Homo sapiens: one gene and its partner. The protein of the gene in region 1 purifies or fractionates together with the protein of each later gene. This does not show direct contact. Each region holds a gene or a part of one and is shown in the gene's direction. Other genes may lie near its edges. The genes, in order: STX19 and SNAP23.

Region 1 (3,825 bases):
CCCCATCTCTATTAAAAATACAAAAATTAGCTGTGCGTGGTGGCAGGCGCCTGTAATTCCAGCTACTCAGGAGGCTGAGGCAAGGAGAAATCACTTGAACCAGGGAGGAGGAGGTTGCAGTGAACTGAGATCACACCATTGCACTCCAGCCTGGGTGACAACAGCGAAACTCTGTCTCAAAAAAAATAAAATAAAATAAAACTGAAGAAGCAAAAATACCTACACATGCAAATTACCTAGAAACAGGAGTTTAGATGCAACATATAGCTAAGGAGCTGAAAATGACTGCCTTTATGACTGTCTTTAAGGAATGGAGAATTGGAAAGGGGATGTGGTACGGCAGGTAAGGGTCAGATATATATCTTTAGAAGCCTTGACATGACTTGACTTGTTAACCTGTGTACATGCATTATTAATTTGAGGGAAAAAATAACATTTTTAAAAAGCTTATTTAAAAAGCTTATGGCTATATTAAATGCGACATGGTATCTTCAACACTTTGGGGAATAATTTATTTTCAGCATCAATATAGTAATACTAGAAAGAGCTTATAGATTAGGGAGTCATAAATACCACTAAACCACAAAATGAACACTAGGAAGCTATACAAGATAAATTACTAAGCCAACCTACTTTAACATCAAATTTTCTCTATACTGAAAAGAAGACTAGTTCTTATCAGATGTATATAATAAAACATGGGTGATAATTCTGCTTTCACAAAGTTGCCACATGGTAAAAAGTTTCCACATTACTTCCCAATAGTTTTACATGTCTTTAAGTATCTATACCTGGATAAGCATCAAATATTTTATACAATATTTGGCCAGGCATGGTGGTTTGTACCTGTAATCCCAGCACTTTGGGAGGCTGAGGCGGGCAGATCACTTGAGGTCAGGAGTTCAAGATGAGCCTGGCCAACATGGTGAAACCTTGTCTCTACCAGAAATACAAAAATTATCTGGGCATGGTGATGGGCACCTGTAGTCTCAGGAACTCGGGAGGCTGACGCAGGAGAATCGCTTCGAACCCAGGAGGTGGAGATTGCAGTGAGCTGAGATCATGACACTGCACTCCAGCCTGGGTAACAGAGCGAGACCCTGTCTCAAAAAAAAAATTATATATATATATATATAATAATATTAAACACGAAAGACAAAAACAACTTTTTAACACCTAAAACTGGCAATTCTTTCTATAGTATCGTCTAATATTCCTCCTGACTAATCTTCCTTTCATAATTGTTCCAGGTTTAGTATCATTCATAGCTCATTTTTTTCCTTGGATCTTATAGAAACACTAGCTTTGGTTAGCTCTACTCTGAAGGTAGAGAAACTGTTCCTTGCCAGTAAAGTAGAATATAGACAATAAAAATATGCAGAGGAAGAGGCGTATGGAATCTCCTTCCAGCTTAGAAGTCCCCTATTTACATAAATTGTACTGACTGAACTTTTTTACCTTTACTATAGCAAATCAGTGGCAAAAACAAAAGATTACCGGCTATTTGAATTAAGTATTTAAAATAGGTGAAATAAATAGTAGAATGCTTTAAGTGCATTTCAGCAACAAAAACTTGCTCTTAAATGTTTCCCACCGGTACTTAAAATGCTCAGCAATATAGTCATGTGGCAATAAAGTAATACAGCAAATGTTTCCGAATAAACTTTTAATATCTATAAAACACCTTTTCCTGACACAAACAGATTTCAAGGTCTTATCCCTTGTGATCTGGCTCTTTTCCCAACCACTTAACTGACCTAATTGCCTCTTTTCAGAACTCACCCTAAATGATCTAACACCACTGAAAAACCTTCATAGCATAGTAAAGCTATGCTATGTCATAGTGAAGTTACTATGCTCTAGTATGCTATACTGTCGTATAAAGAGTTGAGTCCTTCAAACTATACTGCCAGAATCTGAATCTCAACTCTACCACTAGCTGACAACATGGTTCAATTACTAAAGCTGAGATCGTAATTTCATTATCTATAGAATAGAGATCATGACAATACTTGTTCTTATAAGAACATAAAACACACTTAGTGCCTGGCACATATTAAGAGCTCAAGTAAATCTAAGATATCAAGATCTCAACATAAGAACTCAAGTAAATATAAGACTCATCAAGGTGCTGGGAAAGAATAAAGACCCTCTACTTTCTCCTCTAAGTATTAACTCTATGAGGTACCAGAATGAATAAAAACCCTTGATCTCATGGAGTTAATACTGGGAGGAGAAAGTAGACAATTAAGTTAATATAAATAAGTAAAATACATGGTATGTTAAATAGTGAAAAATGCTAAGAAAAATAAAGCTGGGAAGGGTCAGAGAGTTGAAAGAAGGTATAGTTCAAAATAGGGTGACAAAGAACATCCTAACTCAGGAGTGACATTTCAGTAAGGACTGGGTTGGGGAAAAACGTCACATACTACATGGGAAAGAACACTTCAAATAGAAGAGAAGGCAAGTGCCAAGGCCCTAAAGCCAGATGGTGCCAGATTTGTGTGAGAACAGCAAGGACAGTGAGACTGAAGCAGAGAAAGGGAGAGTTGTAGGAGGTGAGGTCGGAGGGGTAACAGAAGGGGTGAAGTCATTGTGGAGCTTTGTAGGCTCTAGTTTTTCCTCTAAGAGATAATGCCAAAGGAGGATTTTAGGCACAGGAATGACATGGTCTGACCTACATTTTAACTCTGAATTCTGTGTTAAGAAAAGACCAGAGGTTTTGTGGTGGGGGCAGGATGGGGGGTAGTTGGTGCAAAAAGGAAACAAGGAGAACACTTAGGAGACTATCGTTAACAATCAAGATGAAAAATAACAGGGACTTGACCAGTTGCGGTGGCTCATGCCTGTAATCCCAGCACTTTGGGAAGCCAAGATGGGCGGATCATGAGGTCAAGAGTTCAAGACCAACCTGACCAATATGGTGAAACCCTATCTCTACTGAAAATACAAAAATTAGCCAGGCATGGTGGCATGTGCCTGTAGTCCCAGCTACTCGGGAGGCTGAGGCAGAAGAATCGATTGAACCTGGGAGATGGAGGGTGCAGTGAGCCAAGATTGTGCCACTGCACTCCAGCCTAGGCAACAGAGGGAGACTCTGTCTCAAAAATAAAAAATTAACAAAAATAACAGGGACTTGAACCAGGGAGATGGTAAGAGGTGGCTAGATCCAAATACATTTTGAAAGAGATGTTGACAAGATTTGCTGTGCTTGCATATGAAATGTAGAAAAAAAAAGTCAAGAATGACTTCCAGCCAGGCGCGGTGGCTCACAGCTGTAATCCCAGCACTTTGGGAGGCCGAAGAGGGCGGATCGCCTGAGATCAGGAGTTTGCGACCAGCCTGGCCAACATGGTGAAACCCTGTCGTTAATAAAAATACAAAAATTAGCTGGGCGTGGTGGCACATGCCTGTAGTCCCAGCCACTCGGGAGGCTGAGGCAGGAGAATTGCTTGAACCCGGACGGCGGAGGTTGCAGTGAGCCGAGACCACACCACTGCACTCCGGCCTAGGGGACAGAGTGAGACTCGGTCTCAAAAAACAAACAAAAAAAGACTTCTGAGTCTCTGGTCTGAGCAACTGGAAAAATAGAGTTGCCAGAAGAGAGATGGGGCAGTTTACGGGTTCACAGGAAGATTATGAGCTCATTTTGGATAGAGGCATTCAAATGCAGCTGTCAGGTAGGCAGTTTTTTAAGAGCAACCTAAACTGGAGATACAAATTTGGGTCATCAGCTTACAAACAGCATTTAATGCCATGAGACTAAAAAATGATGATGGATAAAAATGAGACTCAGTCTAAAATCTTCCAATATTTACAGGTGGG
Region 2 (3,788 bases), on another chromosome or scaffold:
CCTGTCCTCATAGGTCTTAATTCTGATGAGGTGGTGGTTCTAACACATAAAACAAGAGCCAAGTCCTCCCTGTCATGGTAGTTGGTGCATTTTGAAACCAGAGTTTTGGAATATAGTAGTTTTACTTAAACCTTCACACATGAAGCTTAGTATCTACTTTAGCTTTTGAGCGTGTTTTTTTCTCTCCCAAATGAGTTTTATTTTGTTAACTAATTTTTTAATTGAGAATGGGGTCTTGCTCTGTCGCCTAGGGTAGTGTGGTGGTACAATCACAGCTCACTGCAGCCTGCCTCCTAGGCTAAAGCGTTCCTCCCACATCAGCCTATTTTGTTAACTAAAAATAAATTAAGTTCCTGAATCCTCATCTCATGAAAGAGTCCGTAGGTGAAAATCTGTTCTGCAGAATAGTTCTTATGGAGTGGACACACGAAATAGAGTCATGTGAGTGAAAGAAAGTTGTGATTCTTTTTTTTCCCCCTTAACTTTACATGATATAAATATAGTGAAAGCGAAATTGTTTTCAGTGTTTTGATGTGTCACATGTAAAGTCATACCTTGGCCAACCGTGGTAGCTCACACCTGTAATCTCAACACTTTGAGAGGCGGAGGCAGGAGGATTGCTTGAGCTCAGGAGTTTGAGACCAGAGCAAGACCTCGACTCTACTAAAAAAATTTAAAAATTGACCAGGCATGGTGGCATGTGCCTATTGTCCCAGTTACTCGGGAGGCTGAGGCAGAAGGATTGCTTGAGTGTAGGAGTTGAAGGCTGCAGTGAGCTGTGATTGCACCATTGCATTCCAGCCTGGGCAACAGAGTGAGACCCTTTCTCAAAAAGAAAGGAAAAAAAGAAAGTCATACCTCATTAAAATCTCAGTGAACTTTAGGGTGAGTTTTTAAGCTTGGCTCTCTGTTAAATCACTTTTGATGGATTTAATTGAAACAGTGGTTCACAAGATGCTTTAAATGCTGCAGTCTGGGTTTAGGCTATATTTACCTGTCATTTTAATTCAGATGTTGGTGAGGATGGTAATAGATTCGTTTCAAAGATCTTTGGAAAGGTTATTTCAGTCTCTCCAGGTTAGACTTAGGGTGTCTGAATCCAGATGAGATTCTATGATTCAGTTCAGAGGACTCACACAAGGTCCAGATCTTTAACAGAGAAGAGCACTCTTTCATATTTCATTGCATCAAAAAATGCCATTGATTACAGGATGCATCCCAGTTTCAGGCATGTTAAACTATGAAAAAATGCGTTATAGAATTTATGAAATATTGGCAAGGTCTTATATGTTACACCTTTGTCATGTTTATATACCAGGGGTTTTCCAAATGAATTTCATATTCTGTTACTTCTTGCCCAACATGAGTTTTGTAATGTAACTTCACGTGGTTTCTTGGATTTTCTTGGTGTGTCAGTTACTCCAAGTGTAAAAAGTTTAATTTTTATTAGAGTTACTTACCTTGTAAAGCTGATATCTTTCTTGTTTTTCAGGCTGACACCAACAGAGATCGTATTGATATTGCCAATGCCAGAGCAAAGAAACTCATTGACAGCTAAAGCTACTGCTGTTCTTCTTTATCATTTATTCACTTCCGTAGCTCCTCCTTGAAAGTTATTACCTTTTCAGAGTTTAAGTTTTCGGTTCCACGCTCTTCTAATTGGGAGATAATATGGAAGAAGGGCCAGAGCAGTTACAGCCCTCCTTCTTTTTTGTTTTCTGTTGAGGGCCGACTGCTGCTCTGCCTTCCTTCTAGTATTTTCTTTCTCAATTCATACGCTTAGATTGGTTTTCATATGTCATGTTTAGTGTTTTCATCCTCCTCATATACTTCAGCAGGTTCTTTTGCTTTCAAGATTTGGAAGCATTGCCAAAGACAGCCATGAAGAAGGAAGCTGTAGAGGTGTTTTTTGTTGTTGTTTATTTTTGCTTTTGTGGTTGAGGGAAGGACAAGAGATAAGAGGTTGTTACCTCAGTAAAAACCTTCAGGCCACAAAGCAAAAAGTTGCATAGCCACAACGAAGATCTAGTTGGATATAGTTTTTGATTTAAGTTGCAGTTATAGCCAATTTAGGCTAATGCTTGGTTTTGGAGCTTTTATACACAACGTTTTTGTTAGGCATCACAGTTTTGCAACCTCTGCTCCAAAGAGAAAAATAGAATGAGTTTTCTTTCTTTTTTTTTTTTTTGGAGTCAGAGTCTCGCTCTCTTGTCCAGGCTGGAGTGCAATAGCGCGATCTGGGCTCACTGCAACCTCCGCCTCCCTGGTTCAAGCAATTCTCCTGCCTTGCCTCCTGAGTAGCTGGGATTACAGGCGTGTGTCACCACGCTCGGCTAATTTTTGTATTTTTAGTAGAGACAGGGTTTCACCATGTCAAGCTGGTCTTGGACTCCTGACGTCGTGATCCACCCGCCTTGGCCTCCCAAAGTACTGGGATTACAGGCGTGAGCCACTGTGCCTGGCTGAGTTTTCTTAAAGTGAGCTTAATTTCTGAACTCTTAGTGATTCATATATGTACATAAATCTGTGATCCCATTTCTTATTGCACCATTCAGGAACACTTTATATAAATGAGTGGCTTTTTATTTCATATTATTAGTAGTATCATGGTTCCATTACAGGCCTATTAACATCATACATTGTCATTAGTCTTTGAAGAAAAAATATGTAAATATATATGTGTAACATGAGAATTTCTCTCTAAAGCAGGGCTTAAAATTTTTTGGAAAAGTTTGACAAAGCATACCACATGAATTCAGATTTACCTCAATGCTAAGAATTATGTTTAGTTAGGAAAAAGGAAAGTCATTTTGACCTCAGGTAGAAAAATAGATTGCTTTGAGTTTTATGTAGCTTTAGACTTTAAAAAGTTAGAATTTATTCTGTAACTAAAAATTATTTGAAAAAATTATGCCTCTGGTTTAATTATTGGTGATTACACACTCTTTCTCTTACCCTTGTGTATTGAACTATGTCCATAATCAAGTTGATGTGGATCCTGAAAAGTGTTATGAACATCTGATTGGTATTTGTCACATTTATTTTAAAATTAGCATCTGAACACTTCAAAGCTGTCAGTGTGTATTGGTTTCACCAATAACCACTGCTTGATCCTTACAATTAAATTTTTTAACTAACTAATGGTATTGTTCTTTCAAATAGGTAACATGTTTCTATGACTGTTATTTGGGGGAAAATAGTTTCATCAGCTCTCATTTAACAAATTAATAAAGCAAAGATCCATACATCAAGAAACACTACAGCAGGAAGCTGCCTTTAGCATCTTTCCAGTATTTATTGAAAATATTGATGGGACTTAAACTTACCTTGCTAAAAATTTATTGTGAGGTTCATTTTAATCATTACTAGTCTTACTCACTTGAGCTTAAATACACTAGTGACTGGAAGGGTAATGGTTCTGTGTGAGAACTACAACTCACTGGAGAAGATACAGTTAATGTGGGAGCTTTCAAAGGCTAAAGAGGAAAATATTTAAATAAAGTGAGATGCAACTACACCCTCTGTAATAGAAATGCTCCATGTCAAAATGAGTGGTTTGGCAGGGATGGTAAATATGTAAAGTAAGGTGTAAAACGGAGGATTGTGCTTTACCTAAATGCCTTTCCTAAAACCATTTACCATAAAAAAAAATTTTAGCACTGTTCTGGATAAAGGAAATAGTTCTGAGAATACCAGCATGCTACACTCACAGTATGATTGGTTAGAAGCATGGGCTGAGGCATTATCTGAATTTTCACTCTAGCTGAAGTGACTGTAAGATCATTTCT

Evidence for each region.
Region 2: the proteins of STX19 (region 1) and SNAP23 purify together in Homo sapiens (affinity purification with mass spectrometry; 3 studies listed by BioGRID and IntAct, with this or other methods). This does not show direct contact.

Annotation. Positions count from the first base shown.
Region 1 is NC_000003.12:94,018,494-94,022,318, reverse strand, and holds part of STX19 (syntaxin-19), read left to right. Parts: intron 1-3,820; exon of another isoform or gene 3,821-3,825. UniProt on the Homo sapiens protein: Plays a role in endosomal trafficking of the epidermal growth factor receptor (EGFR).
Region 2 is NC_000015.10:42,529,921-42,533,708, forward strand, and holds the end of SNAP23 (synaptosomal-associated protein 23), read left to right. Parts: intron 1-1,492; coding exon 1,493-1,558; 3' UTR 1,559-3,138; downstream 3,139-3,788. UniProt on the Homo sapiens protein: Essential component of the high affinity receptor for the general membrane fusion machinery and an important regulator of transport vesicle docking and fusion.